Linked DNA regions of Homo sapiens: region 1 is linked to region 2. The links come from fine-mapping of genetic effects on plasma protein levels. A gene starts in region 2. The other region holds a variant in brackets. All regions are shown on one strand. Distances are between the middles of the regions.

The links. PIP is the posterior inclusion probability: the model's chance that the variant is causal. The UK Biobank Pharma Proteomics Project read protein levels with antibody pairs (Olink). The fine-mapping took linkage between variants from a reference panel, not from the people measured, so its PIPs are less certain.
Region 1: its variant is fine-mapped to the plasma level of the NTRK3 protein (UK Biobank, PIP above 0.99).

What each region holds. Positions count from the first base shown.
Region 1 is chr15:87,960,100-87,976,161 of GRCh38, reverse strand. All of the region lies in intron 14 of NTRK3 (neurotrophic receptor tyrosine kinase 3), which reads left to right. Among named protein-coding and RNA genes, the nearest start is that of MIR11181, 22 kb to the right of the region's middle. The variant G/C (reference allele first, on the strand shown) is at 8,376.
Region 2 is chr15:88,252,723-88,268,784 of GRCh38, reverse strand. It overlaps NTRK3 (neurotrophic receptor tyrosine kinase 3), which reads left to right and starts at 12,046. Exons shown (of 20, transcript NM_001012338.3): 1 at 12,046-12,141; 2 at 12,299-12,501; 3 at 12,617-12,879. The coding sequence starts at 12,632. NTRK3-AS1 (NTRK3 antisense RNA 1) reads right to left here and starts at 16,055. Exons shown (of 4, transcript NR_038229.1): 1 at 15,307-16,055; 2 at 1,913-2,004; 3 at 699-918. RefSeq lists enhancers at 10,193-10,487, 12,828-13,364, 13,365-13,902.

The DNA of each region.
Region 1 (16,062 bases), 290 kb after region 2:
GGGACCATGAGGACATGCACTGGTTCGAGGGAGAACTTTCATTTTTAATATAGGAGAGATTTGAGCTTTCTTTTTTTCTGATGCTTGGAGCCTATCAGTGTATGGGAGAAGAGATAATAGATAAAGATGGCCCCTGAGAATATGGGAAGGAAAAGTATCCACAGCTCAGGAGGAAGGGATAGCATTGGCCTCATGGAGGGAGTGCTCTTCCCATAGAGCAGGAGGCAAAAAGAGGAAAGGATGTGGAATGTCTTTTCAAGGTGATAGGGCAAGGAAGTGAGGGAGTTCTTGTCTGGTGGCTTCCATTTTTCCTATAAAGAATGAGGCAAGGCCTTGTGCTGCTAGTGAGAAGACCCAAGGAGAGTTGGAACATCTGAATTGACGGGGAAGAGACTATGGACGACTATGGGGATCTATGGAAAGGTTGCTGGGCAGAATGAGGAACCAGCTGCGATTGGAGTCTAGGCCTCCGTTTTCCATGTTTTACTGCTAGGTGTTGAAGTCTCATGGCATTTACCCCAGGGTTGGTGCCTCTAGGGAAGTCAGAGCTGGTATAGGGCAGATGCGGAGAGCTGAACTCAGCCCAGAAAGATGCCAGTTTGGACTGGCCTCAGCTTAGGGTGGCTCAGGGAACCAGCCAGTCCTGCAGCTCCCTGACCTCCTGCATTCGAATGTCACCAACAGGATTTCACAGTAGCTTTGTCAGACCTTAAGCTTACATTTTGATCCTGCGGGATTTTGCTGCACAGATTGACAGCTGACTCAGTTCACGAACCCAGGGTGCTTGCCAGGCGCTCCCTGGATCTTCATTCTAGAGACTTGGTTGACAGGTGCTGGTTCTGAAGCTCAGAGAATGAGAAACTCAACTGTACCAATAAGATCTTGTAGAAACAAGGTGAAATTCGATCTAACACATTCCAGGGACATGCCCTGGAGAGGCTGGACTTTTTTACTAGCATTACATGATGAGGTCCTGGAACTGGTTGCCAACCTCCCAAGAATGGGTTTACTGTGGGGCATTAATAGTAATAATTCTATGTAACTTATGAAGCACTTACTCAGAACCAGTCAGATTTTACCCACAAGGAAGCTGAAGCTCAGAAAGATTGAATAACTAGCTCAGGTTTCCACAGCTTGAAACTGGCAGAACCAGGACTGACAGGGGGACTGCCTGACACCTCAAAATGCTTTTGGCCACTCTGCAGCCCCCTAAAGTAGCACATCTTCTGCTCCTGGAAGGCTATGATTGTGAAACACCACCTAGGTGCTCCCCCCTCCAACCCCACTCCACTCCTAAGACAGAGAAGTCTTTCAGGGGTCTTCAGGGATGAGCACCATCCCTGACTTCCTTCTGGAACTTTTGGGACAGGGTGATTTTAAAGACTGGAAAAGAACATCTGCAACGTTCTTTCCTCTCATTGTAGCATTTAGTGACTTGGGGGTGTATGAAAGCATGGTTGGGCTTAGATCTGAGATTAATCACATGTCTTACAGTTGGTGAGATTCCCAAGCAATGATGGCCTTTTTGATATTGGGGAGGACTCATCATACAGTTGGATGAGACCAACCTGATCCTTAGGATAGCAGTTAGGCTGCCCAGGTCTGGGCAAGGGTGAGAAGCTTCAGATAGGAAGGTGGTAGAAGAAAGGATGAGACCAACCTGATCCTTAGGATATCAGGTTAGGCTGCCCAGGTCTGGGCAAGGGTGAGCAGCTTCAGACAGGAAGGTAGTAGAAGAAAGGGCCTTGTCTGACTACCCACTGTCACTTAACCTTTCTTCAACGCACCTCAAAGACCTCCTGATATGTCCAAGCTCAGCCATGCAATGCTCACCCTAAAAAGACCAAACACAAATCAGGCTCAATTTGGAAGTCAAGAATCTGACCTCTAGCCACCTCTGTCTCTTCTTTTGTGCGGGAATCCCTTTCTGCAGCCAAGCTCCCAGCAGCCACATCCTCACCTCCACCTCCCCAGCCACAGGTGTGACCGCAGCACAGCACTGGGCTGTGACACATCCCCTGGCTCGTCCCAGTTCCCTCAGGTCAAGACCAGGCATGAGCAAAGGATCAAGCATCTCAGATACAATGGTGAGGCAGCAAGGGAGGGTTGGATGCCGCGGGAAAGCTCAGGAGCGGGCAGATCAATGCAGGACGACTTCATTGTTGTGTAGCTTTCTGCACGGAGCCAGACATGGATTAGGCAAAGAGCCGGAGCCTTTGTTCCTTCAGGGTTTACTGACTCCTGTGCTCTGGCTAGACTCGCACATTGCTGCCAGCATGACTCTGAAAGCAAGAGCAAAATGAAGGTGGCAGGGAGGGAGAGACAGGGAGGGGGAGAGGGGCGATGCTGGCTGCTTGGAGTCTTCTCTGTGAAGGGCCCAGGGAAAACTCTTAAGCATGACAGCAGAGACGGGAGGAAGGTGGAGAACAATGGGGAGTCTGGCTTCCATCTAGACTGTCCAGCACGGGCCTGGAGCTCTCCTCCTCCTCTCTCCCAGCTCTCCCCCACCCACCACATTGCCAATCTTTAATGCTGGCTGATGTGGGCGAAACTGCTTGCAGCCTCCAGATTCCTTGGATAGCTCTGGTTCTGCATTTTGCCTTTAGAAATCCTACTGTTACCACCCCCTATACTTCCCACCTCCCAAGAAAACCTCAGCCTAGATCTGACAGTATATTTCCAGAGCTAAATAAGACTCCTTCTTCAACCCTACTTGAACCCAAAAGTGAGTTGAAGGAGATATGCTGGCAAGAGATAAGTCCCTTGTCTGCTTTTTTGGGTGGTTCTGAAATTCCATCAGGATTCTGAGGCCCTCTTGGGTAGGACTTTTGTTCCAGTTTCTCCTACTCAGTGGATAAAACTTGCATAGAGTGACCCCAGTTTCCCTTGAAATTAAATCTTGATAAGGGAAGAGATTTCTGCACGGGTGATAAGGTCTAACACCCCTCTGTGTTTTTGCCCCTTTTCATTTTGGCACATTTTCCTTCTATCACAAAATATCTGGGTGTTTGTGCCTGAGAGAGCTAGATCTTCTCTCCTCATTATGCTTGACTTCTGGGTGGGTGTGAATGCATTGCTCAAAGGTTCTGTATGCTCCTGGGCCAGGATGGCGAGGAATGACAAAAACGAGGGGGACAAGGAAGATATCAGAGGCAAACCTTTGACTGGGGCATGCTCTGCTTTGAGAGAAGGGAACAAGAAAGACAGGAGCACTTCTGAGGAGCACAGATCCCACAGGGACGTAGAAGGTACTGATGGCTCAGATTTGGTATCAAAGGCCTCCAGCCCAGGTCTGTGTGGGTTGTATCTGGGAAGGAACTTGGAACTCTGAGGTAGAGGAAAACGGCAGGGTTGCAAATTACCCAGAGAACTGAGCTGTAGAGAAATCTTAGCTGAGGGCTCTGGTGGGACTTTCAAACCAAGATACATGAGCCTTCCATATGGGACCAGATGGGCACCTGGCTTTCTCAGGATCATGGTATTTTCTCATGACCCTCTACCAAAAGGATCCTCTCAAAGCTTCTCTTAAATAGATGATTTAAGGCTTTGATTTACCTATGGGTGGGGACTGGGGCCTTTGGCGTAAGTCAAGAAGAATGGAGCTTGGCTTTTCTGAGAGCCAAAACCCTCGAGCAGTTCTCACTTCACACCCTAAGAGTAATGTCAAGTAATGTCTGAGTTTGGAGGGGTGGTCAAAATCCCCTGCTCAGCTATGGAGAGGGTTTGCAGAGCAAGGAGTGAGGCTGCCCAAAGGCATCGTTCCAGTATGGCAGTCCCTGACTTTTGTCTTCTTCCAAGTTTGAGGGACAGAACATCATGTCACCTCAGAAAACACTACCAAACCTGGCTTTGGTAAGTAATGCTGGAAGCCTTTGTGGATTGCAGTGATGACCAGCTTGTCTTCATGGCTGTCTTTGCCTCAGTTTCTGCCACCTGTGTGCTGTTATCATGGCAGCTCAATGAAGCCTAGCTCTGCCTTTGGAGACCTCACTGGAGCAAGTGGCCTATTTCCCTGAAAAAGACACATTCTCCCCTCCCTTGCCCTCAAGTTCATTCTGCAGTGAGAAGGACAAGGACTTAGCCTTGGCAAAGGGGAAAGTGACTTCACTGCTGTCTAATATGGCCTGGTGATACCTCTGTTACAGAGTTCTGATAGACCACTTACTTTCTCACTCCAAAGCTCACACTACCTTCAGTCTGTTTGGGACCTCGTAATGTCGTTTAAAAATCACATTGTGGTATTCTTTGCTCTGCAAGGCTTGCAATAGCCTTTGGTCAAAAGTCATGAAATCCTGACCTTCAAAAACGCACTTCTCTTAAAAAGAGAGGGTGTGGAGCTGTGGGGAGCACATGTGCTCTTCTAGGGATGGGGCAGGTCTACAGAGCCTGTGACATGGTCCTTGGCAGCTGCACAGGCCTAGGGAAATATTTACCTCTCACAGCTAGGTTCTTGAGCGTGTCGGGAGCTCATGACATGGAGGGTCCTCTAGTTTTAAGCTGAAAGGGTTTAGCCTCTGTGACGCAGGGGACCCCTGCACCTACAAAGGCTAATTTCCAGTCTTTCTCAGCACTGGGTCAGACAAGCAGTCTCCAAGCTCTGCCCTCTTGCTGCCAAAGTCAAGGCAAGGGTGACAGAAGGAACATTCCAGAGTACTGGCTAGATACTAACTAAATCTAGCCTATTAATTATATTCTGTCAGAATCTCTGGATGCTCTTGCTATTAATTCTGAAAGAAAATTCACATGGCAGAGAACATGAGAGTAAATCTCAAACAACTTCTGTCAAGACTGCTAGTTCCTGACAGCTCACCCTGGCCAGGAGGGCACAGCCAGGATCTGTGATGCTCTCTGGTTGCCCCCAACCGGCGACCATAGCTCCTCACTGAGGCCTTTTGCTTCAGAGGGAGCCAGATATAGAGCTGGCCAGGGAGAACTTGAGTCTGTTTCCTCCCACTGTCAGTGGGCAGCAGGGGAGGCACCACCAATATAGAACATATTCTGAGAATGTCCTTCTTGGGAGAATTTAAATTCTAAGTTCATGTTTAAATGACTCACAGAATCGTTCAATCTTTATGGCTGTCAATTTGGCATTTCTTGCTACCATAACAGGAGATTGCTACACAGTACCTCTGATACCAAATGGCCAACCTAGTCGTTAAGAAGACCAGAATAACCCCACTGTGCATTTTCAGGATGGTGTCTTTGGCCATCTTAATAATTTTATTGGGTCAATCACTTGACCAACTGTTATCCTGCATAAATTGGTCTGTTTTCTGGGCAGAGCTTCAGGGCCTGCAATATGGTTCTCCCTTAATTTGAAATCCCCAACTTGCAGAAAAATCTTTTTCTCTTCCTCCAGTTACTAGACAAATGATGTTGTAAGGATCAAGTGCTCCCCTTTTTATTGATTGCAGCAATGTTTCTCCTTAGTCTCATGATATGCCAAGGATCCATCAGAGAACTTTGGAGAATGTTGCACAATATGGCCAGCTCTTAGAGTTTCACAGTTTGCATTAGGATATCAAAGGCTCCAAGAAGTCCTGCTGTAAACAAACCTTATTCTACCTCTTTCCAATTCTAATTAAACACAAAACATTCTTCATTTAATATCTATTAATAGACTCAGCACACACATGTTAGAAAACACTGGGTTATAGTGTGATCAGAAGCTTTTAAAGAAGAATCAAGCAGGATGTGTTCGTCAACCACCCACTTCTTATATCAAGAAACCACCACACCCAGCACGCTACCCAGCTCTAGGCTCAGCCCTCACTTCTGCCTTCTACGTAGAGTCAGAAAAAATTCTGGTTGCTGATGGATAGACACTCTTGTGAAGATCAGGAAACCTTCGCTGTGATATCTCAGAAGAAAATGGTAAGTCATTTCACATAAGAGCTTGAGACCTCAGCATTAAACCTGGCCATCCGCCCAGGCTGGTGGAGGTGACATCATCTAGTGGTAGCATACAGCAATGAAGACCCGGATCCCAGTCTCAACTCTACCACTAGCAAAATGACATGGGGTAAGTTACCTTTCCTTGTTCCATATTTGTCTCTGAGTAGCTAGTAGAGTTTGCTGATCCTCATGTAAAAGACCCTGCCTGGACAGATGCCCCAAATACCATGTCCCCATGAGTCACTGTTGTCTCTTAGTGGAGGACATCTCTTGGTTCCTGGTCCTTCTCTCTCTCTGAATATGTTGTGTATAAGGCAAACTGAGTGAGAGAGATGGCTGCCCCTTTGGGTGAGGATCAGTGGATTTCTCTGGATGAGGGTGGAAGCAGATGCTTGGGGGTTAATAGACCCTCTCTGTCACAGCTGGACAAGGCCAAGCGGGAGTTCTCGGCAAGATTTTCTGAAATTGATCTCAAGAAGGCAGCTCTGCCTAACAAATAGTCTGAAATGTCAAAGTATAAATGTTAAAGCTTGAGGGGTCATTCTCCAGGGAGTTGCCTGGGCTGGCTAGGGAGGGAGAGGAGGAGGGAGAGAGGGACACAGCAGAATCCTTCACATAAAGATTCTGACTTGGTTTTGTGATATTTAAGAAAAAAGAAAACTCTGAATTATTTATAGCACAGAAGATGTAAGCAGGCTGTAGAGAAGTAGCCTGGCTTCACATGATAGTTTATGGCCATTATTTAGCTGCCCCAGCCTTGAACTGGTAAAACTTTTCTCATTAGTCACATGCTGTTGAGCTCTACTTGAGCTATCTATCTATCTATTCTTCTTATTATTGCTATTATCATTATTTTAATCAAGAAAATTCATGTCCTTCAATATATGAGTTGGGGGACGCAATTTCTGGAAATGATATTTGCACAAAGCAGGAGTTACCTCTTTCCCTTAAAGGGACTCTGGCACACGCGTCAGTAACTCTTTCCACCCCTGTGGGTGTTTCCAGCCTGTGCCTCTTCAAGCAGGGATTCGGAAGGCCCCTGCTCTGATATGAGTGGGAAGCATCTCCGTTTGGGCCTGGGCACCAATTGGCCATGTCAATCTGGGAAGGTGAATTTCATCTCTCATTCGTTCCCTCTGAAAGATGAAGGCAATTGTCCTATGCCTCTTCTGAGTATGCTGGGCATAGGAAGGATAATTCCATTGTGTTCAAAATACCTTGGTACCTGGCAGGGGGTGGGGGGATAGCATCTATGTTATGTGAGGAGATAAAAGAAGTAAAGAAATGTTAAAAGGTTAAATAAAAACTGATTGAAGGATTGGTGGTAAAGCTGGGGGGAATGAGTTCTTTCATCTGTTTATTTTGGTCAGTGATAAAATGAATGCTTCATGTTGATAATCATATCCTGATTCTATAGCATGGGTAATTGAAATTCACCAATAATCCCCAAATTGCAGTTAGAATCACAAGCTTCACATGCTCTCTCTTCCATCTCTACACATGGTACAAACACGCTCTTAGTCACTCTCCTAATTGTTTTTGCATACCCTTGACAATACTCTGGGAGATGCAAACACATGGAGTCAACTTTTGGTCAGTTTAGGGGTGGTGAGGTGAGGTTAGTCAAACTGCAAATTAGATCATCAGTAGAGCTCCAAACAAGCAATATTGTATTTAGGAGGTGTTGCTTTTGTTGAAGATATCAATACTTTCGTTTCTTTCCTAGACCTGTTTTTTTTTCTACCTTGAAGAACCTGGAGAACATTTTGCAGTTAAAATGTCACAGTGACACTCCTGTTATAAAACTCTGAACGTGTACATATTTTTACCCTCACTAACTTACTCTACCTCCCAGAAGTCTTTGAAGTGTTTTGCCTCCACTCCCTACTTGCTGTGATGTAGAAGTTAGGCTAGCACCATTGCTCTAGGGCAGTGGTTCTCAAAGTTTTTGGTCTTGGGACTTCTTTTCACTTAAAAGTCATAGAAACCCCAAATGATGTTTGTTTCTGTGGGTTATATCCATCATATTCACTGCATTTGAAATTAAAACTGAGTATAATTTAAAAGCTCAAGTATACACACACATTCCATGTAGCTGTCAGGATGATGACATCATCACATGTCTGGAAACCACTGGACAACTTCATGAATAATACCTGCGAGACACGAGAGTAAAAAAGGCATACACTATCTTACTATTGCTGGGAAAATAGTTTTGACACATGAATCTCCTGAAAGGGTCTTGAGCCCACCAGGGACCTTTGGACCATTTTGAGACCTGCTGTTCTAGGAAAACAGGCACAAGCAGATTCTGAAATCAAACCTGAGTCCCTTTGGAGCCAGGGAAATCTACCAGTCATGCACTTTGATCCAAGTGTAGAAGTCCATCAGAATTCCATTTCTTTACTCAGACATCACTGACTGCCCCATGGGTGTTGACTTAAAGCAAACTGGCTACAACCATGCATGTTCAGTTGCTA[G/C]GAATGTGGAAAATATACAAGAAAGACTTCACCTATTATAAGAAAACAGAGTGGGGGCTGTTTGCTTGCTCTGGAGAAGAACATGGGCTTGATGTCACAGTAAACATTATTGGTTGATTGAAGAGACTCAGCACGAACAGGATTTACAAAATCCCATTGGTGAGAGCAGGAGGCATGAATGGCATGGGATGAGAGAATTTATAAGCAGCACCTTGCTGGTTGGGCATCCCTTCATTGCACTGTAGCTCTCATTGTGCATCACATTTGGACTTGTTTAAGGAACATGTGAGGCTCGCAGTGCTCTAGCCAGGACCTATGGGAGTGCCTATTTAAGTTTAGACACTCTGGCACCTCCTTCCTCTTTCTCCTAAGCTGGGCAGCTTCGGTATAGGAAGATTGGACTATGAAATGCTTTAATGTCTAGGGAGCTTCCTTAGGTTAACTCTGTATAGCACCCAGCACACCACCCAGCAGAGGGACCTGTCTCATCATGAGGTCCTAAGTGGGTGACAGTGTTCATGCCTCTTCCTGTTCATCATTTATACCCCGGGGAGCAAGAACTGCCCTTCTGTGGGATTATTTCACAAACCCACCGGAATAGGGTCTTTCAAGGAATACCTCTGAGATCATGAGCAAATGTTGCTTAATTGACTCATTCTTCAAACATATTTGGGGCATCCACTCTGTGCCACACACTCTGCTACTAAGTGAGTCAGTTGTATTTCCTGTCATCAAGAGCTTTATTGTCTCCTGCACTGGTTTTCAATTGGGGGTGATCTTGTCCCCTAAGGGACATGTGTGGAGACATTTTTGGTTGTGACAACTGAGGGTGGGTGCTTCTGACAGCTCCCCACAAGAAAGAATGATCCAGCCCCAAATGCTAACAGTATTAACGTTGAGAAACCCCAGTCTAGAGACAATACAGTCCAGTATTCACTAGTCTTGGGTAAGAGGGGACCTCCCCACTTTTTAGGGCCCTCCTTTAGCTGCCAAAAGTCCTAGGGCCATGAGAAGGGACCATCTGGAGCCTGCACCCCACCTCCCTTCTAGACAATGTTTCATTTCCTAAACCAGAATTCCTTACCCAAACAGCTCTCAGCTTGCCTCCAGGACACATGCGGGTCTCTTCATTCATCTGTTCTAAGGGTGGGCTACGCTGCAGGTACGTGTACTGCTAAGCCCAAGAGTTGGCCAAAGGATTACTGTGTGGGGGCAGTGGGAACATCGAGAGTGTCAGGGTGGGACGGTTAGAGGAAGATGGAGTTGCAGGCTCAGTGTGCACACATATGTACGCGAGACCCCTTTCACTGTGGGATGGAAGATGGGGGTGGAAGAGAAGGGAACAGGCCAGGGGCCAACTCCTTAGCACCATGTGTCTCCACTCGCAAATCTGAGGAACCAGAGACACCGGAAGTCACCTGGTCCTTCAGGTCATCCTGAAGATCAATTTCGCAGGGCAGGAGGATAAGACATGCCTTATTTATTAGTGTGTTAGCTTGATTTATAACTTCCAAATTTTAGACATGTGTGTGTGCTTCTAATTATTCCCTTGTCCCAAGTCCTTCAAATGTAAGGAATAGGCCTGGTATAGATAAGTGAGTAATTATGAAGCAATATGATGAAATTATGGGAGAGGTAAACATAGAGGAAAGACACCTAGTTCCCAAGTGGAGTTTTTTGTTTGTTTGTTTGTTTGTTTGTTTGTTTGTTTGAGACAGTTTTGCTCTATCATCCAGGCTGGAATGCAGTGGTGTGATCTCGGCTCACTGCAACTTCCACCTCCTGGGCTTAAGTGATTCTCAAGCCTCAGCCTCCCGAGTAGCTGGGATTACAGGTGCCCGCCACCACACCTGGCAGATTTTTGTATTTTTAGTAGAGATGGGGTTTCACCACGTTGGCCAGGCTGGTCTCAAACTCCTGATCTCAAGTGATCCACCTGCCTCGGCCTCCCAAAGTGCTGGGATTACACACATGAGCCACCTTGCTCAGCCTAATGGAGTTCTTAAAAATACTGAATCATGATATTGATCTGCAGATGTTTAAATAAAAATGGCAGTTCAAAGAATGGCATAATCAAAATGATCAGTTAAGACTTTAAAGTTTCCATTGTTTAGAGAGAGCTGCCTTCAAGCCTTGGAAATCCTGACTCCACTGCCTGGTGAATAAACACCACGGTCCTTTGGTGACCTCGGGCTGCCTGAGGTACACAATTGTGGAGGTTCTTCCTGCTGGACAGTCTCCACACTGGGGCAATGCTCTTACAGGCCCACCCAGTTGCCATAGAGACTGATCTCGAGGTCTCCACAATTGACTGGTATTTACTGGGGATCTGCAGCTTTCTGGATGCCGTGACCAGCATCATAAAGGAAAGAGAGGGGCTGCCCCTTCCCGGCTCCCCATCTGTGGACTATTGTGAGAATATCTCTCTGTCACAGAAAGGTAAAGACCCTGGAGAAATTGAATAGGAAGGATAGTTTTTTTCTTTTAATAACATTGTGCTTTTTTCTGATTACAAAGGTAATTTATATTCACAGTAGAAAATTCAGTGAAATACAGAAAAGCACACAAACACATAAATTATCCACCATCCCATCACCCAGAGACAACACTGTTAACATTTCAGCTTTCTGCCTTCTAATCTTTTTTATGTACTTATTTGTCAGAATCAAATCATTCCACGTGCACATGCACATACACATTACTTTGCTACCTTTTTTTAAAAATAAGATTGCATTTGCAATTTAACTGATCTTTTGCAATGTTAAAAATTTTTGTGGAAGTGATATATTCACCACATGGTTAAAAAAATACACACATATACACACACACAAACTTGCACAGAAATGTTCATAGCAGCATTTTTCATAATGGTCAAGAGCAGAAAAACGCAATGTTTATTGACTGGTGAATGGAGAAAGAAAATGTGGTGTAACCATAGAATGGATTACTACTCAGCAATAAAAAGGAATGAAGCACTTACACATGCTACAACATGAATGAATCTCAGAGAAACATGCTAAGTAGCTGGACACAAAACATCCCATTTTCTATGATGCCATTTGTGTGCAATGTCAAGAAGAGGCAAATACGGAGAGACAGAAATTATATTAGTGGCTGCCTAAGGCTGGGGTTGGAAGCAGGGATTAACTATAAATGGACCCAGGGTTCTTGTTGGGGTGATGAATGTTTGAAAACTGGTTTATGCTGGTGATTATACCATTCAGTAGATTTACTAAAAGTTGTTGAATTTTACATTAAAATAGGTGAATTTTATGGTATGTAAAATAATGTCTCAATAAAGTTTGTATATATATACAAAATAAGTTATATAATAAATATGTAAAATAAAGTTTGCATGTATGAACTCAATGATGCTTGTATATAATACATAGTAAATATATAATATATAAACTAAACATATATAATATATGTAAACTTTATTGAAGTATTATCATTATTTATCCAAATTACTGCTACAGATTGATCTATCTGTCTATAAAATGAGAGCACTCCCCTTTTTTACACCTGTTCCTCATTGGCAAGTTGTTCCTAGCACCGCTACCATTACCAGATAAGTAACCTCTGTTATTGAGTGTCCTTATGAATTATATCTAAGCCAATTATATACAAACAGATATAAATGTATGTTGTTTATTTTTTCTCTATTTTGTACAACTGCAGCTGTGTCATACATACTATTGTGCACTTTTTAGGATAATCCCTTCCCCACCCCAGTTTCTTGGAGCTCTTAGAGAACTCCCTCATTGTTGTTTTAGAGATCCATACTATCCTGTTATATTGATGTACTCAAATTTATTTAATTTCTTCACAACAGTTTGCTCTTATAAAACACGGAAATGGATTGATCCTAAATATATTGAAACTAAATAAATGTGGTTGAACCTAAATATAATATTAACATAAAGCCGTATGACCCCTATAAGCTATTTGGTATATCTGTTTTGTATATATTGGCCATATGGGGTGATACCAATGTGTACCCCAAGAGTAATACAGATGCTCCTCAATTTACCATGAGGCTATGTCCTGATAAACCCATGATAAGTTGAAAATATCACAGGTTGAAAATGCACTTAATAACACCTAACTTACCAACCATCATCGCTTAGACTAGCCTACCTTAAATGTGCTCAGAACACTGACATTAGCCTACAGTTGGGCAAAATCATGTAACACAAAGCTTACTTTATAATAAAGTACTGAATATCTCATGTAATTTATGGAATACCATACTGAAAGTGAAAAGCAGAATAATTTCACACCATAGTGAAATTGAAAAGTCCCAAGTCGAACCATCGTTCAGTGGGGGACTGTCCATATATGAGAATGAGATTCCCCACAGTCTTAATAAACAGAGGGTCATGGCTTGACTTTTAATGACTGTGTCATGCTCCACTGTGTGGACATACCAGATTTATTTGTCTAGTCCCCTGTGTTTGAAAACTTGGATTGTTTTATTTTTCCATTCTTACGAAAAACAGCACAAGTATTTAGGTACTCTTGGTGGTTAAGCTGAACAAGGGAGATGGCTCAGTGGCAGCCCTCATCAGAGATAGTATGTCTGTCACTGCATTGCTACCTCTGATGAGGACTGCAGGTATCCAGTGGATTCCCCCAAGCAGGTATCCAGTGGATTCTCCTGAGGGACAGCTATCTTGTAACAGAGAGCTGACTGTGGAAAGCTATCTCCTTCTGAAACATTATTGCTTCAGACCCAAAGATGCAACACGTTGAATGCAGAGGTCATTATCTTTTTTCAGGTAACATCAAGATGTTGCCAACATTCACATAATGTTGTTCCCCAAAGGGCTCTTCTGGCCAGAGCCTTGCCACATTTTAGGGCTGGGGATTCTGAGCTGCACAGTCCAGAAATGTTAATGGAATTCTGAATGAAGCCTCTAATCTCTATGTCCTGCAGAGGGTTAACCAAGCGTGATGCCATGACTTTCTCAAGGTCAGAGTGAGGGTTGGGAGGTAGTACCCATGTATCCTGACCTCTTGCTCTGACCTTTAAGCAGGCGGCGTCCTTGGAACACATCGGGTGGGGCATGGCAGTAGAGATTGAAGCTGGCTGTAAAAGGCCACAGACAATTCAGAGAGAGGCATTTCCAGCCAACCCACTGATCTGGGCTCCAGGCAAGGGAGGGGCACAAACTGGAGAGAAGTCAACCAGCTGGAAGGAATTCAAGGAAATAGCAACAGGAAATCTGAAGGGGTGGAGAGATTGCTAGTGAGATTATCTAAATCTGCAGCTTTTGAGGCCAAGTGATAGCCATGTTTTCTCTCTAGCAGCCCTCAGCGGTGACAGCAAAGCCCATGCTGTGGCTTCAACACCTCTCCTCCTCTTTTTCTAACAAACAGGGTCTTTAGTGTCTTTCTAGGGGTGAGCATGGATGGGGCCAAAGATGGTCAGGCAGGAGAAATATATCCTCTTCCTCTCCTCTTCTGGGTTCCTGAGCTCTTGTCTGCTGAAGATAAGTCCTGGGGGAAGGAAAGGTCTTTAGACAGCAGAGCAGATGATGCAGAAAGAGCCCAAACATATGCACGGGCAAGACAAGCATAAAGTGATGATATTAGGGATCAAGATCCAATGGCAACAGGGAAGGGAGAAAAAAGCTGGGTGTGGGAGGAGCATTGTAGTTGAAACCAATAAGTGCAATTAGGTTTGTGTCACTTCCTACAGCCCAAGCAAGCTGTTTGTTGGTCATCTGTTAGAGGTGGCTGCCAAGATGCCATGTGCATTCCAAGATCCCTGGGTGCTGGCCCTTCCTATCTGCCAGGCCGAGAGAGGGACAATGGATGCCAGCTCTGGAAGTCCACTCAGCCATGTGTGGCCCACCTCTCTGGTATGCTCCTGGAAGCAGGGGTAGTTGGAATCAAGGAAATACAGCATCAGAAAGAAGTCTGAGCACCTGCTCATTGCTTTCCTTGCAATGGGGTTGAGAAGAAGCAGTTATAGGTGGATTGAATCAGGGGTTAATGGCTAGGCCAAAGGGAAGCCTGGTGCTCTCACCAACACACCAATGTCCATCTGTTGCTTAGCCCATCTGGGCATGCCCTGGGCAGGACCTGCTGCAGCTCAGAAAGCAGGAGCTTTTAGGGGACAGACTGCACCCTCAGGAATTGGCCTTGCCACTGCAGCCCACTTCAGACCTGACTTACTTCCTGCCTGATTAACTTTCCCATCTCCCACCCCAGCTCCTGCTGTAGCTGGTATGCCAATCGGCAAACCTGCTAATACTACAGTGCCCAGAAAAGTGGGTGCTCAAAAAATATTTGTTCATTTAAGAAAGTTATTAGCTAAGGCATCAATTAAATGCGACTTTAAAAAATCTCCCTAGAAGGAGTGTCTCCAGATTCTTTGGAAATCTACCCACATAGCTAGCTTGAGTTTTTTAGGGATCGGTGGCATATGTTCTTCTTTTAATGACAGTCAACAGTTTAATGATAGTCTCTAAACTTAATGCCAAGTGTAGGCTATGCATCAGGTTTACATGGTGGATTCAAACCTGGTCTGTGATTCAGAGGGAGATGGCTGTGCACAGGGAAGTCATATACCACATTGTGATAAGTACCCATATGCCCTGGGCTTCCTGGAATTTCAGAATCCTGATCATACCTATGTCTGTCGAGATAAGTGAGTACCCCATCTCATCAGATGCAAGGCTGCTAATGATCAGAGAGGCCAGGTAGGCATTAGTCAGACTGTGAAGGATTTAAACTTCACCTGTGTTGAATGAGGACTAGGAAAAAGCAGTTGGGCCTGGGCATCAGAGATCACTGTGACTTTATAACAGGTAAAGTCAGGGGGGTGAAGTGGTAGAAGTGAGAGTGAAATGAGGCTTGAGAAATGATTGGGAAGCAGAAGAATGATATGGCACGCCGCTTAGACTACCCATCAGAGTCTGGTGATGAAGGCAGACAAAGGAGTAATTTCTAGGGGAGGACGGGTCAAGGAAATACTTTGATTAGGATGGGGGAGGCCAGGCATAGTGTCTCACACCTGAAATCCCAGCACTTTTGGAGGCCAAGGCAGGCAGATTCTTTGAGGCCGGGAGTTCAAGACCAGCCTGGCCAACATGGCAAAACACCATCTCCACTAAAAATATAAAAATTAGCCAGGTGTAGTGGCACACACCCATGATCTCAGCTACTAGGGAGGCTGAGGCAGGAGAATCCCTTGAACCTGGGAGGCAGAGGTTGCTGTGAGCCGAGATGGCACCACTGCACTCCAGCCTGGGTGAGAGAGCGAAACTCTGCCTCAAAAAAAAAAAGGATGGGGGGAAGCTTTATTCTGTAGGTGAGAAGTCAGTGGGCAAGAGGGGTTTATAGTAGTGAAGAGAGACGGGTGCTAGATGGGTCCACATCCAAAAAGTAGATGGAAAAAAAAGGAGATAAAAGCTTGAGTGGAAGCTTTACAACCTTAGAAGAAAGAGAAGAGTTATTAATTCATGTAAGATGAAAAATAAACATGAGGTAAGTAGAATTGAAGACAGAGGGAAATAAGGGAATTTCTTCCTATTTCCCTAGCTCATCTGAGAGTTAGTCCATTTATACTGGGAGATTTGTGCTCTGGTCCCTTTGACAGGAGGTCCTGGATTAGTCTTGTTCGAGGAGGGACCCAAACAAGGTACTGATGAACAGATAGTCTTTCATGAAGGAGGCA
Region 2 (16,062 bases):
AAAAAAAGAAAGAAAGAAAAAGAAAATGAACTTCTCTATGCGCTCACTGCCCACCGACACCTGGCCCCTGCCATTTGCCACGTGTCACAGATGATATTCTGCTGTTTTCCCTAACAGAGCCGACAGACCATGAGCTACTTGAGACCAGAGACCAATCTAATGACCAATTCGATGTCTCTTGCCTCGCCCATGGCTTGCCCTTGTTAAATGCTCTGGGATGCTCTAGACCTTTTTTTTTTTTTTTTCATTTCCACTGGATCCATCTGGGGTAAGGGATGCAGGGACTGAGAGGATATTCCTATCCTGCCTCAGTTCAGCCCAAGAGTCAGCTGGAGAGAAGCAGGCGGCAGAAGCAGGCAAATCGGTCCTCTTTAGGAAAGGTCAGCTAAATCAGCCCCCCTGCAAGAAACGTGCCTGGTATTTTTAGAAGCTCTTCAAGCCTGTGGGCCTGAGCTCAGCAGGAGGCACTCAGAGCCTTCACCCATCCAGCCCCTGATCACCCCAGTTTAACCCCACTTCACTGTCTCCTACTTCAGGCAAGGGAAGGTAACTGAGCAGAAGCTGATAGAGTCATTCAGCGAGGCCACATGGCTAAACCCTGATCTCCTTTAGATGATACAATAGGCGGTCTCATCTACTTCACTGGCCAAAATGTATCATGTGACCATGAGAAAGTCGCGTTCCTATGTTACTCCTACCTGTACGATGGAGAGGTCATTATATTTGCCTGTAAATCCATTTCGGAAACGAGGCAGGAAAAATAGGTATCCAATAAACACCAAAAATTGCTGTACTCTGCTGGATTCTGGGGGACTGTTGTAAGGCCTGGGTGAGGTTATGTTGGAGAATTTTGTGTTCCTTGGAGAGAGATGCTTAAAGAGCTGATGTCATAAAAATGTGTCATAAAATGCTGTTGTGCTGAAAAAAGAAAAAAAAAGGGTAGCTTTCCACTTGAGAGAGAGGTGTGTGGTCCAGGAGGGGCCAGCAGCATTTGGGACATGAGGTTCTCAGACCTCTAGCCAGAATCTGTTACTTGTCTTTCTTTCTTTCTTTCTTTCTTTCTTTCTTTCTTTCTTTCTTTCTTTCTTTCTGTCTGTCTGTCTGTCTTTCTTTCTTTCTTTCTTTCTTTCTTTCTTTCTTTCTCTTTCTCTTTCTTTCTTTCTTTCTTCCTTTCCTTCCCTTCCTTCCTTCTTTCCTTCCTTCCTTCCTTCCTTCCTTCCTTCCTTCCTTCCTTCCTTCCGTCTTTCTTTCTTTCTTTCTTTCTGTCTGTCTGTCTTTCTTTCTTTCTTTCTTTCTTTCTTTCTTTCTTTCTTTCTTTCTTTCTTTTTCTTTCTTTCTTTCTTTCTTCCTTTCCTTCCCTTCCTTCCTTCCTTCCTTCCTTCCTTCCTTCCTTCCTTCTTTCTTTCTTTCTTTCTTTCTTTCTTTCTTTCTTTCTTTCTTTCTTTCTTTCATTTTTTTGAATGGGCAGAATGGATGCCTCGGAGTAGAAGCCTTTGGCTGTAGTCCTAACTAACTATGCAGCTTTGGGGACATAACTTAGTTATCTTGGGCCTAATTTGTCTACCTATAAAATAGCAGGGACAGGGGATTGTACTAAATGTGGTGTTTCCCAAATTGGTAAGTTTCCATGAGGCTTTTGTGACTGTGGCAATACCCCAGGGTCTTCAAAGGCACAGGAATAACAAACATGGCACAAATCTTCCACCCCCTTCCCCCTCATCCCCTCCCTCCCTGCTCTCTCTCCTCCAAGTTTGGGAATTCTAGTTGGGAAAATGTGAGGAACACAGGAATGGTTAATCTCTAAGGCCTTTTCAAAGATTATGATTTTATAATTATAAAATCAGTGATATTATTATTGCTATTATTTTTGGTATGTGTGAGGGAGTTGGGGTTAATGATAAACTGAACTCACAGAAATGTCTAGTATCTTCTTTCTTCTTCCTAAAATCCCGGGACTGGAAACTTTCAGTGGACTTGGAAGTTGAAAGCAAAGTGAGCTGGCTTCTGTGGTCAGCCCATGAGGGCAGGGAGGGACAGAAGAGAAGAGTGGGGGTCAGGAAGTGCGGTGATATTTACAAAGTTCTATTCTGTCATCTTTGCATCAGAGAGTTTACAGATTAAAAGTATGGCTTCTAATTCAATCTGGCACAAGGGAATGAGGATCCTGCCATCAGCATCCTTCATTAAGCACCTTCTTTTGCCCCCAGCCTCTGCAGTTGCCCTCACCACACACGCAACCTCCCCACACACCCCTCTGGCTCCCACCTCTCTCTCCGACCTGCATCCACATGTGCATACCCAGCCCATTGGGAGTGCCCCTCACCCACACCCCACCGCACCCCACCCACGAGTAAAGCCCACCCGCCCCCCGCCACCTGCTCCCCGTGCTCACCTGCACTGTCCAGCCCCTGAAGACCCCCTCGCAGGCTGGAGGTTCCTGCCACCCTCAGCACATGCCCCTGGGGACCACATGTGGTGAGTTCACACACCCATCCCCGAGCCCACTCCCCATCTCTCTGTCGCTGCCCACAGCCTTCCCCAGGCTTGGAGCACACACTTGTTCACCCTGTTTAAGATCAAAAATAAACTCTCTGGAACCTGTTCAAAGGTTAATGTGCATCCTCCCTTAATTATTGATTTGTTGATTACAGATGCTTGGGTAGGACATTCATTGTGTCCACTGTGCCAAGGGCCTAACTCTAGAATCCCTGTCCTTTTTGGGAGAAAGTTGGCCCATTGATCTTTTGGGAAGGAGCTATTTGAGTGTTAGATAAAACCTGTCCTGCCACAGGACAGGTCATAGACTAAATATTGTGCTCCCTGCTGAAGCCCTCATTAGCCCTAGCCCAGGATGGTCTAGGGCTATGGCTAATGAGGGCTTGGATGGTCACCGCTGGGGTCCTCCCTCCTTCCTTCGGTCTCAAAACCAGGGAAACCCTGGCAAAGGGGTGTGGGGATGCAGAGGGGCAGAAGTGCACCTCACCAAGTCCCCTGCAGAGGTGGCAGTCTCCCCTTTCCTCATTGCCTCACTAGGGACAATTTAGTGTAAAAAGTGGCACCTGGTTCCATGCTGTGTTTAGGAGACCAGGGTTTAAAACCTGGCTTATTCCACGTACCAGTTGGGTGACCTTGGACATGTGATTTAACCTCTCTGATTCTATTTCTCAACTGTAAAACCAAGTATTTGTGAGGATTCAATGAAATGACACACGTGAAGGCTATAGAAAAATGTCACACACAGAAAACAGTCAATACGTTGCGGTTGAAGTTATTATCATCATCATCACCATCATTCTGCCCATCTTCATCTCTGGGGCCCCACGATCGTAAGAGATGGCTTTCTTTGGTCCAGGGGATGCTTCCCTTTTGGTATGTGGGTGTGGCCTCTGGATGGCTTCTGCTACATTTAAATCTGTCAGGGACACTGAGCCCTGGGGCAACCATAAACTCTTCTGGAAAGAGGTTAGATCCTTCACACCACAGTTCTATGGACATCTCCTTGTTCGTTCCAGCATGAGGCTGGGCAAGGGGAGTGTGGGGCTTGTCACTGGGAAACACTGGGGAGAGGTCTGTCATAGGGCACATGCACAGTGGGAAAATGTCACTGCCATCCATCCATGGGGTTGGACTCCTGGGCTCTCTTTCTTGGAGGGAAGTTCTAGAACTTGACACTAGGAAGAGGGTGTTCAAGGGGAACTCCAAGTGTCCGCAGTGCTTTGAGGGTCATCTGGCTTCCAGCAGTTGGATGAACTCATGGTGCCTTCCAGGTGTGCTTCCAGGCTGAGTTTCTAGGACCCCTTCCCCATGCCTCACATTCACCCCACAGCTTTGAGCATCCGACCTGAGCTTTTGTCAGGGCTGGTTTGCACCTTCCCCCACTGCCACCTTCATTCCCTTTCCCACCCCCATCCCAGAACTCCCTGGGCTGGGCTTTCTGTTCCCTCAGTTCCCAGGCAGTGCAGCTGGTGCTGTGGGCTGGGGAGGGGGTGGAGGACGCAGCAGAAAGTCTGTGGGAGGGAACTATCTCTTAGTTCCAAAGGCAAGCATGGCTTCCCATGCCCTTCCCCACAACGCATCGCTTCCCCCAAATTCCCACACTGGTGTCTCAGCAAATAAGACAACACTTTTTTTTTTAAATTTTGGTTTTCCATTTGCTCTTGATACCTACTTAAATGTGTGTTGTGTGTGTGCTGTTCTCAGTAATCAGTGCCAGAAGAAATTGGAGCTGATCTGGTGATTTCTTGTTTTGAGTCCCAGGTATCTGGCAAATATCTGGTCTCCTCCTCTCTGGGCCTGAGGAGTTTGGGGCATCACCTCTTTGGCCCTCTATGCTCCTGGAGTTCTGTTCTGTTTAAAGAAACAGAAGCCAGGATAGTTTCTAGCAAGCAAGGAGGGTGGAGTTGTGAGCACCCTAATAGGGAGGCCGAACCATCTGGTATGGAGCGGGCCCCCTAAGGAAGAATAGTAGAAAGAAAAAATAAGGGAAGGGAGAACTCCTATGTATCAAATCCTGGGCTAGGCACATTATGCACGTTTTATGATTGCCTTCTCCAAACTGCATTGCAAGGGAAATATCCATGAGCAGTGCCCTTCAGGAGAGGAGGATGAGGCTCTGCTAGGTGAAATGATAAGCCCAGGTCACCAGCTAGAAAGTGCTGGAGCTGGGGTTCAAACCAGATTTGCCTGGGGCTAAAACTCACACTTCATAAAGCTGCCCCTTGGAGGCGAGAGTGTAATGCATGGTGTAAATGGAAGCTGTTGTCTTGGCTTTCCTCAACTCTGAGATCATCTGGTTGTTGATAAATGCAGGCAGGTCAGAGGTGAAGTGCTAATCAAGTGTGCAAAGGTACTGGTGTCCGCTACTCTTAGTGGAAACCAGTGGCTGTCATTTGTGAGTGTTAATGTCCACAAGGTGTTTTCAGGTGCATTATCTTGCTTGGTCCTTGGCATCATTGGATCCCCACGTGACAGAGAAGGAAGTGGAGGATAAGAGAAGGACAGTAGCATGCCCAAGGTGATGCAGCCCAATATGCTTTGATGCTAAATGAATGCATTAGTACAAAGATGGGTCTGAAAGCCATAGTCCTATAATCTGAGCCAGAGGCTCAGGGCCAGGGCAGCTGGAAGGTGTGGCATGGGCTGCTTTGGTGAGGAGCAGGTGGAGAGAAGGGCAACCGTGGGAGGTGGTGAGGCAGAGGCGGGAGCCTGGGAGCCGAGCAGGAGTGGGCTGGGTTGACCAAGAAGGGCAATAGGATACAGTGGGGGCCCTAGGAGATGGGGAGGAACGAAGGGGGAATGTCTAACCCAGAAGAAGTCTTTCTTTGGCTTTCTGCAGGGCAGAGGCCACAGTAATGGGGCTGCTGGACCTGGGCTCTTCCCTAGACTCAGTGGGAGGAGGCTGCCAAAGGCCCAGGTGGTAGGACATTGCTGTTCCCAACCTTCTCTTGAAAACAGGAGCTGCTAATCTTTCTGCTTCTAGAAACCCCTTGATATTTGCCTTGTTGGGGAGAAGTGTGTGGCGGCACATATAACTCTGGGGATACAGAGGAAGTGGTCAGCTCAAAGCACCTCACTTCTGTTAAGTCCCAAACTTCTCTTGTGGACACACATGGGGTTTCAGGCAGCAAAATAATTCATTTAATCTTCCCCCAAAATATGTGGTGTCCATTTTTGGGCTAGCACCAAAGTAGGCCCTGGGGGGTATGTAGTGAACAACACTGACAGCTCCTGGCCCTCTTGGTCCCTGCAGCCCAGGGGGAGGCAGACACTGAACCCTTACTTCCATGTGTGTGGAGTGGTACAAAAGGGCAAGGTGTGCTGGGGGCAGCCATTCATTCAACAACCACCTAGAGAGCCCCTCTGTGTTCTCAATGCCGTTTACGGGGCTGGCAAATCAGTAGATAAAATAAGCAAGGTCTGTGCCCTCAAGGAAGTTACATTTTAAAACCTGGTAACAGGAATATCTCCTTGCAAGTCAGGAAGGTGCCCAGACTTCTCTGCCCCACCCTGTCAATCTTAGTTGCTTCATCTGCCAAATGAAGGCCATTATCCCCGGCTGCCCTCTGAGATGATCCCTGGCTGCTCTCTCATCAGTAAATAGGCAAATGGCTGGGTATTGTGCAGAGGAAGGCACAATGTAAGTTACTCCGAGAGAGCTCATCTAGGAAGGCACGTGAGGGCTATGTCTATAATGGAGGGTGGGTGTGGAGGTGCAATTCTCCAGCCTCTCCATTCCCCTCAGTCCCTGTCAGTGGTGCTGCACTAGCCTCTGCCAACCACCTGCAGGTTTCTGGCTTCCTAAAAGTGTGAGTCCTGACTCTTGACTCCTGATTTCATACCTTGGGGGAAGTTGGCTCATGGAGTGGGAATCCCTCTTCCCTGGCTCCCCTAACCTGCCTGCAGTGCTCACCTGCTGGCAGGAAGTCAGCTGCCTGCCCTGGATCCTGCTGTCTAAGGAAGGGCTCTAGCATCTGCTCCTGCAGGGCCCCCACCAGGACACTCAGAGGCCAGGGAGGCCTTGTGAGTCACTGCCTCTGCAGGACCTAGGACGTGCGGCATTAAATTCCCAGCCCAACTCAACTGCTCAGAGCCGGTGGTGACTCAGCAGGGTCTACCTTCCTATGGAAGGGACCAAAGCCCAGAAGGAGCAACTCAAAGGCATGAGAACCAGCAGCGAGGGGCTCCGGGGCTGAGGAGTTGCATCTCAGGGGAGATGTACCTGGGCCTGCGCTCTGTACTTTCTTCCCCAGGGACCCGAGATTCACTGAACCCTCTCTGGCAGCACACCACTTTGGGGTCTAGGACCAGAGCCAGAGAGTATCTGTGGGCGGTGGCTGCACCCGACCCATTGCACCAACTTGCCAGGGGGTGCTGCAATGTGTGTGGGAAGAGCTTCATGGCGGCATTGTGTTTGGCTGTTAGTGGATAAAGGCTGCTGGGGCCTCCCTGCTGGGTGGTAAAGCCCTCTGGGAACCTCAAAAGTGGCATAATAAAGTTGACATACCATGCTTATGTGCACCAGGCACTATTCAAAGTGCCTTACTGTGTTATCTCATGACAACCTTGTGAGTTAGATCCTATTTTGCAGAAGGGGAAACTGAGGCGGAGAGCCTTAAGTACATTGCTAGGGTTCGATACTAGCGGGTAGTAAACCCTACATGACACCATTTTAGTCCCATTACAGCTGCTTACCGCCTGGCTCCCCAAGGTCAGAGCACCTCAAGCCGGTGTGATCTGGAGCCATGCTTTATTTAAACCGATCACTTTGACAAACCGAATGCATTTCCAATAGCTGTAGTGGGGAAAGATCAGAAAGCTGTGCTTTTGGAGTATAGGGAAGGAACTGAGGCTTTGCTCAGAGAAGAGAGGGGCAGTGAGTAGCCTCCTGGGTGGCTTGCAGAAAAGAGGTGAGACTTTTCCCTGAGGGTCTAGGTGGCAGCACTAGCACGAGGGTGGCAGCTTTAGGGTGCTGGCTTCGCTATGTCAAAGTCAAGGATACCCAAGGAATGGAGCTGTCTGAGAACAGAGTCGAAGGCTCTGGAGTGGCTGGTAATGAGCTTCCTGCCACTGAAGGTGTTCAAGCAGGACACCACCAGCAGGTAGTCCCAACCTCCTGGCAGGTGTTTGTCCAAGATATTGGGACTTGAGTGGGAGCCCTGAGCTGGCTCTTCCATGGTTGAATTCTTCTGCTTTCCTGGACCACTTTGGTGCTTGACTGTCCCCTTTTGTGGGTGGGCTTTCATCTTCCATGTATGGTCAAAATTCTTTCCTTGGACCCAGAGCTTCTGGATAGCATTATACATCCCCAGCCTCCAACCAGGCCCAGACCTGTCTCTTTCCCTTGTAACTTATGCTTGGGCCACCCAAGAAACAGAACTCCTCCTCTAGCCCAAGCCCAGATCTGCCAGCTCCAGATAGCTCTTTTAGAACAGCAAGTCCTTCAGGACCTAGTATTCCCTTTGTAGCCCGCTGTGCTCCCCAGTCACCTCCCAGTATCACAGTTTCTTGACCAGCTGAGACTTGCAGAAGTAGATCCTATTTCTGCTCAAACTTGAAAGTTGTGAAGCACAGCTCTTGGATTCAGAATGACACCATAGGAGCAGGGCATGGTGGGTGAATCCATGGACCTGCCTGGTGTGTGGCCTACATCCCGGTAATGTGGCCACTGACTCAGGAGTATGGGTCCTTTGGAAAAAGGGATGTGGCTGGGTTAGAAAGGCAGACAGGTGACCAATAGACTGGCAGGGCTCTGCTCTGAGTTTCCACTCCCTTTCTCCCTTGCTAGGTGGAGGGGAATGTGGGCTGCTGGAAATCTCCCATAAACAGTTGATATTAATCTCAGGTGCTTGCACGCCTGGAACATGCCTTTTAAGAAAGACACGTGTTCAATTTCTCTAGGTGTCAGGGGAGTTGGGCCACTGTGCTCCAGCAAGTGGTCCCCACTCTGACCTGTCTGGTGAAAGATTGCATTCGAATCTTGGGAACATTTCTGTCTTCTCCAAACCCTTGGTACTGGAAGGTGTCTGCTCGCCTGTAAAGGGTTTCTAAAGCTTTACTTTCTGTTCAAAAAACAAAACAAAACAAAAAACTTTGCCTATTCCTGCCTCTTATTGATCAGCAAGGGGCACACGGGTGAGTTTCCTCCTTTCTAAGACTCCAGCTGGTAGCAAAGGAGATGAGGAGGTTGGGGGGTGACCCCTGGTTGGCTGGATGCTGAGCTTGGTCATGATATCTCCAGGACTCCATGAAGCGACAGGCATTTTTCCTTTTCAACCAGGACATTCTTATCAAGAGGTGAGACACTGTAAATGCTCTGGACTCTTACTGAGGGGAGGGTGTCTACGCTGGAGACTTTCTTCTGCTCCCACATTTAAATTTGGCCTACTGCAGAGGTTAAGAACTAGCAAACTCTGAGTGTGCACTATTATTGACCCTGCACTATGATTTCTGTGAGCAGTGCATGAGCAGGTCATTCTCATCTTCTTAAGCTTAGAATGAAACTTCAAATGTCTTTTTCTGACAAGGCCCCTGCCTCTGAGATACCCAGTTTATTTCACCCTAACTTCACTGTAACTGAATAACATTATGAGGACCCATCCCCATCATTCCCCACCTTTTTTTTTTTTTTCTCCCTCAACAGTCCCTTTGGCCCAGATCCATGTAGAATCAGAGAATCTTCAAGCTGGGAGGGATGACTATGGGGCTGCGATGTGCTTATGAATCACCTGGGAGCTTGTTCTGATGGACATTCTGGTTTGGGAGGTCTGTGATGGGGCCTCAGATGCTGCACTTCTTGCAAGCTTCCAGGTGATATGGATGCTACTGGACAGAGGGCCACACTTTGGGTTTTGAGGATCTGGTCTTAACGTGGTCATTTTACAGATGGGAAAGCGGAGTCCCAGAAAGCTTGTCATTTCCCTGTGGTTAGAAATGAAATTCTGCTCTTCCCCACTCTAGTCTATCACCTGCTTTTTTTTTTTAAACCTTTAAGTTCAGGGGTACGTGTGTAGGATGTGCAGCTTTGTTATACAGGTAGACATGTGTCATGGGGTTTGTCGTACAGATTATTTCATCACCCAGGTATTAAGCCTGGTATCCATGAGTTATTTTTCCTGATCCTCTCCCTCCTCCCACCTTCTACCCTCTGGTAGACCCTCATGTGCATTGTCCCCTCTATGTGTCCATGCGTCACCTGCTTTTGAAAGGGCTTCCCTCTTTTTCAGCTGTCGCTTCCTGCTCAGGCCCAGAGTGTGAGCATAAACGTAGCACCCCATCTTAATCCCATTTTACTGTCAGGATGAAAGACTTCTTGCCCATCAGGGCCCCTTGCTCCACAATCTGCATTTTTACCAAATCCAGAGGGGTTTTTAAAGGTTTTTTGTTGTTGTTGTTTTTGTTGTTCTAACTTATGGATGTCTCTTCTTCTCTGCTTGACATGTTAAAAATCCTCTCTCTCTCTCTTTCTTTCTCTCTCTCTCTCTCTCTCAAAAAAGTGGGCTGGGCATCTTTTGGACACAACCATTTCAGTTCCAGGCTGGAGCACTGATGCTGGGCTGAATCCACTTGGCGTTCCCTGCCCAGGAGTGGTCTGAGAGAGGCTGTGTTTCTCTGCTGCCACCTGCCACCTCCCAAGAGAGGCCAAGTGTTAGGATCTGACTACACCTCAGTTTCCTGACTCTCAGATATTCTAAAGCCAATCCCAGAATGGCACTTGAAGTGACAGGGAAATTCCCAGTGGCCTAAGGACAGCCAGGATTGGCCTAGGGCCAGTAGCAAGTGGTTTGAGAGTCCAAGGAGGTCTTCACACTCTGTCCCCGCCTGCTGGTGGGAGGGCAAAATGCCAGTCTGGAGACAAGGCCATAATGGCGACGGGGGTAAAAATCTCCCTGGGGCCAAGGGAAGGTGGAACGTGACGGGAAGTCGGGAAAACTGCCTTGTATAGGCATGTTCTTTTCTTCCATTTTTTTCGTCCAAGTTTTTACTCCAAGCGACAGTGCCACCCGAAGGCGACCGGCCTGTTTGTGGTTGCGCCTGGGGCAGGCGGTGACACCGGCATACCCCTTCCCCCATCTTGCCTGCAAGTTGCATGACCTGCATCGGAATCCACAGGGGGGCGGGGGAGACTCCTTTCAGATACTGGATGCAGTTGAATTGAATTCAATGTATTTTGCTTCCTCGCCTGCCCTCCTCCAAGCTCGGGAAGGAGAACCCTGCTTTCTTCTGCGTGTGAATGCTGTAGTGTGTCTGCCTGCTCGGACTCCCCTAACCCTTTCTTCTCCTTTCCCACAGCGAATGCTCGTTTTTTTTTTTTTCAGCAAACAGCTCACACTTGGCATCTTTATGTTTTATTAAGAAAAAAATCCCTACCAGCGCAAAAGCGGGGCCCCCCCCACACACACTTCTTTCCCGGATGAGATCTGAGCTCTCGTCGAAAGCTGCACCTGCTTTGCGTCCCTACCAGGAAGGGGTGCTTGTGTGGGAGGGAAGGAGGAGGTTCTGCGCCCCCGAATCCGGAGAAAGCAGCCCGCCCGCCCCCTCACCCGGCAGCCAGCTCAGCTCACCCGAGAGCTGAGCCCGAGAAGCCGGCCTCTGACGGTGCTGGCGTGGCGCTTGCCAAAATATGCCCCTTGCATCTCAATTTCCCCCGGCCATTTCTCTTGCACGCACAGCTCGCCCGGGGCCACCTCGGCTCTCCAGCGCAGCCCTTTCGACCCCTGTTTCTTCCTTCCCCGATCCATGCCTGCTCAAGGCCGAATGCAAAACCCACCTCCAAGAAAGCGCAGCGGGCACGGGGGGCACCTAGCGTGCCATGTCCCGCAGTCCCCTCCCAGCCAAGACCAGAGCCCCAGACTCTAGATTACGGAAATGAGTGTCATTCAGACCAAGGACTGCGCGTCTGCGGTCCCGGTCCCCGGCTCTGGGTGCTTCTCTGGGGTGTCTGTGCGCTCCGGCACCCCCCGTCGCCGTCCGTGAGCCTGCGCCCCCCACCCACCCAGGCTTGGGAGCGCCCCCCACCCAAGGCTTGGGAGCACTCCCCAATCACCTCCGCCACGTTCATTTCACTTCCTACCGCGGTCCGGATTGCAGCAAAACCGGGTAGCGCGAGGGCCAAAAAGTGGAAAGGAGAGCGCCTTTCCGTGTCGTGCAGCCAGCTCGCCAACTCTCCCTCCCCAGCCCCGACCCTCGCAATCTCAAATGCAACTTTTTCCCTTCGGTCTCGGTTTCCCCCGGGCTGCGGCTAGCGGGCGCCGCGCTGCGAGGCGTGGAGCGGGCGGGCTGCCGCGAGGCTGCGGGTGGCGGTGCCGGCTACAGCCGCGAGCCGGCGAGTGGGTGGGTGGGTGGGTGGGGAGGAGGGAGAGGACAGGCGGGGAGAGAGACGGGTGTGGGGAGGGGAGGGAGGGGGAGATTCCGCTCTCCTGCCGCTCCCAGCCCGGGCGGGGGGCGGGGGGAGGAGGCCGCGACGAGGGAGGGGAGGAGGGAGGGAGGAAGGGAGGGAGGGAGCCGAGGAAGACGCTCCGATAACCCGTGCGTTTCGTAAGGCTCGGAGCACTTGTACATTTCTGCAGCCGCGCGGCGAGCCATTCGCGGCGGCTGCTGCAGCTCCTACTGCATCTTCCTTCTCTTCCTTTCCTCGGGCTCCGGGTGTGTGTATGTGTGAGAGTGAGTGTGTGTGTTTTGCAGGTGCGTGGTGTGTCCGTTTTAATTCTGCCCAGTAGGTGGGACTTGGTGACTTTAGCACCATTTTTTCCTTTTCCTTTTTTTTTTTTGCCTCCCCACCGTCTGTTGCAACCCTGCAAAGTCTCGGAGTCGGAGAGCGCGCCTCGCTTCCAGAGCCCCCGGACCCGGCGAGTCAGCGATCGCCGAGCCGGCCACCATGCCCGGCAGACCGCGCCACTAGGCGCTCCTCGCGGCTCCCACCCGGCGGCGGCGGCGGCGGCGGCGGCGTCCGCGATGGTTTCAGACGCTGAAGGATTTTGCATCTGATCGCTCGGCGTTTCAAAGGCAGAGGCCCCCCCTCCCCCTTCCCCCCTCCCTCGCCGTCTTTGTTTCCTTCCCCCCCTGCTCTCCCCACTCCCCCCACCCCACCCCCCTCTCCTCTCCTCCTCCTCTTTTTTAGAAGCAGCGATCGGAGATGGATGTCTCTCTTTGCCCAGCCAAGTGTAGTTTCTGGCGGATTTTCTTGCTGGGAAGCGTCTGGCTGGACTATGTGGGCTCCGTGCTGGCTTGCCCTGCAAATTGTGTCTGCAGCAAGACTGAGATCAATTGCCGGCGGCCGGACGATGGGAACCTCTTCCCCCTCCTGGAAGGGCAGGATTCAGGGAACAGCAATGGGAACGCCAGTATCAACATCACGGACATCTCAAGGAATATCACTTCCATGTAAGTCAGGCGGCCGCTCCCCAGCCTGCCTCCCCCGCGCTCTGCGTCTCCCTCCTGCCCACCCGCGGCCGGGAGCCGGCCCTCCGCCCGCCCCAGCTCGCCGCTGCCCGCCGCCCGCTGGGCGCGCGTCAGGCTCGCTCTGGCTCGGGAGATGCTCTCCGGCTGCGCATTCCAGGTGACTCCGGCCCTGGCGAGGCGCGATCCGGCTATGCGTGTGTGTGCCTCTCCCCGGAGAGGACCCCGGCCGCCGAGGGCACGCGGGGCCCAGCTACCGCCCGCCTCCCAACCAGTTGCTGGCTCGTTTCGATGGTGCAAATTGTTTTTTTTTGCTCCCCACTAAATAGCAACAGTTTGGCCACGCTCAAGTGGAATAAAGTAGACGAGGTTCGATTCTTTGGCAGAGGCGGCAGCGGCGGTGGCAGCGGCGGCAGCGCTTAGCCGGCAGGGAAGGTGACAGATAGGGACTGCTCGCGATCCAGCCGAGGTGTTTAACTATTTCCATTTGGAAACAGCAAAACATGCTGACAAGTAAACAAGTTGCGAGCTGGCTGCTCGCGGGGAGACTTTGGACGTGTGGAGGCCGTCATGGACGCCTACCTCTTCCCTTCCCCTCCTGCAGCCCGCCCTCTCCAGCCCCATTTTGGGCATTTCCGAGACACCCCTTTGCCACCCTCATCTGCATCTGGGCGCCTACAGATCCCTTCCCAGTTTGGGCTTTGATAACTGCTCGGAACTATTCCGAGTCAGGATGGCGCAGGGAGAGGAGAGGGCGTGTGTTTTGAGGAGAGGGGTTTCTTGTGTGATCGTGCGGATCGGTTCATTTGGAACATTCAACTCTGGCTGGCTTTTGCTTGGTTCTGCCCCCTCCGAGGGAGACCAGTGGTGGCCTGCTCTTTTCTCCTTGCTATTTTTCTTTGGTGGGGATGGCAGCAGACGCAAAGGAGAGGACAGATCGAGGGCTGGGGACTGGAGAGTCTGCTCCTCTTTTCTTTCGTTGACCTCGGCCAGGTGACCCCTTCCTAACCTACCACCCTGGAGAAGGGTGTGGACCATACTGGAATTGCTCAGAGGATAATTCTCACCTCTTTTCCCCCAAGGCTTCCAGCCCTTGGGGACCCTCAGCAATGGGTAGGCAGCTGAGAAGGGTTTGTGCTGAGGTCCTGGCCAAGGTCTGGAGGAAGGCATTTTGGGTGGCTCTTTACCCCTTCGACGGACTTAAGGGGGCCGGACCTGCCTTTGGTGCTGCTCTGGGAGCACCTCCCCTTGCTTCAGCCCAGGGCCATGGGGCTGCAAAGCCTGGAGGAATTGCAGTCCTGCTCTTTGGAAAGCCCACCAGCCCTCTCGGCTTAATGGAGCTTCTGCTTGCGCTCTCGCAGCTGACAGTTTGAGGGAAATGGATAGCCCAGGAGATGTCTCTGACTCCTGGCCCAGGAGACAAGCTTGACCCATATCTCAGCTCTGCTGTTCACCCCCTTACCCTCTTCAACCCGGCCAGAGATGACAAGATAAACAGCCAAGGGGCGGGGGTCAGCAGGGAGGGCAGGAGGAACAGGACAGACCCAACTGTGCCTCTCCCCCACTGCAGGCCACAGGCTTCCAGCATTCCCAAGGATGCAGGGAGAAGGGTTCAGAGTGAGACTGTTAGGGAAACTCAGACTTGGAAGTGCATTGCTGGGGCTGTATGTGTATGTGTGTAGGGGGTGGATGTGGGTAGTAGGGTGCTGGTGAAGGTGGGAGCTGAGCAGCCAGTCTTGGTGCTCAGAAGCCTGACCTAGAGATTGCCAGGGGTGGGCCAAGGGTTGGAAGAAGGGGCCCCTGGTACCCAGCCTGGGTCTCTGGGAATGGGTGAGCTGCATCCAGTGTGCTGCTCCAAGGATGTGTCTGTCTGTAGAAAGCCAGTGGGAGGCAGGGATGGTCACAATCACGTAGGCTCTTTATAGCCACACAGAGGTGTTGCTCCTCTGAAAATGATGCTCAGGGAAGCAGTTTCATAGGGCAGAGTTGGGTTAGCCTTTCTAGGCTGCCAGAAAGGTCTGTGATGGGAGGGGACTGGGGTGGCCTCTTGCCCTCTTTGGTACTGGAGGGCCTCAGGAGGGCGTCTGGGAGGATAGTGAGCAGGGAGTGGATCTGGAGCCCCTCTGTGTGTGTCCCCATTCTTGTTTCAGGACTTGGATTCTGAGAGGCCATCAGGACTCCTTTCTCTAAATCCACCCAACACCAAAGAACAAGGGAAATGGATTCCCACAGGAGCTGTGCCAGTGGCAGGTGGGGGAGGGTCAGAGGTCATGGGTCAAATGACCTCTCCTTGCCCCATCTTTTCCCCAGTGCCCTGTTATATCTATGGCTGGTATTGACTGAGCTCGAGAAGAGCCCAGATTTCCACTCCAGAGCCAGGGGGCTGGAGAGAGGGCGGAGAGTCACGCTTACCCCGGAAAGTCAGCATCCCCATCCCTGTTTGACTTCTGAGGAAATGGAGGCTTGGGGTGGTAAGGTCACTTGCCCCAGACACACAATCCCAACAGGAACCCCCACTGTGTGGGGCTGCATATGGAGCAGGCTGGAAGAGGGATGTGCGGGCAGAGAGAAGCACCCGCAGCTGGGGTCAGTTCTTGTTTTAGTATGACTTGGGAAGAGGGCTTCAGTTGAAGCCCGTGCCTTGCTGGAGAGTTGTTCTTCAGATTTCTGATGTTATCAAGGAAATGGGACCAAGAGGTCCCCTAGCTCCCTACTGGCCTGAAGCTCTTGATGCTGGTGGCTGCCCCAGGGTATAGCTTGGGCACACTCTGGGTAGAAGATGCTGAGGCCTCCACAGTTTCACCCTCTTGTTCTTCGGGCTGTAATGTTTCGAGATCCTTCCTTCAAGTGCTGAACTGATTGTAACTGAGTTTCCAGAGGGACAAGAGGTTTCCCTGTGGTTCTGCTTCTCAGGGATGGTGTGTGGAGTGATTCCTGTGTGGCCATCCAAGGAAGCTGGCTGGGAACTGCCTCTGATGGGGGAGGCCATCTCCCCATTCAGCTGCCCTGTTTGTATCTGGAGGAAATCAGTTGCAAGGCATCAGAGCATAAGTGTGGGTCTCACCTCCACCCCTCACCAGAGCCACGCTCCTCCAAAGGGCCCTCCCTTTTGGCCCCTTTCTGCCCAGGAGGCCAATCCCTTTGCCTTTGCAGCTGTTGATACACAGG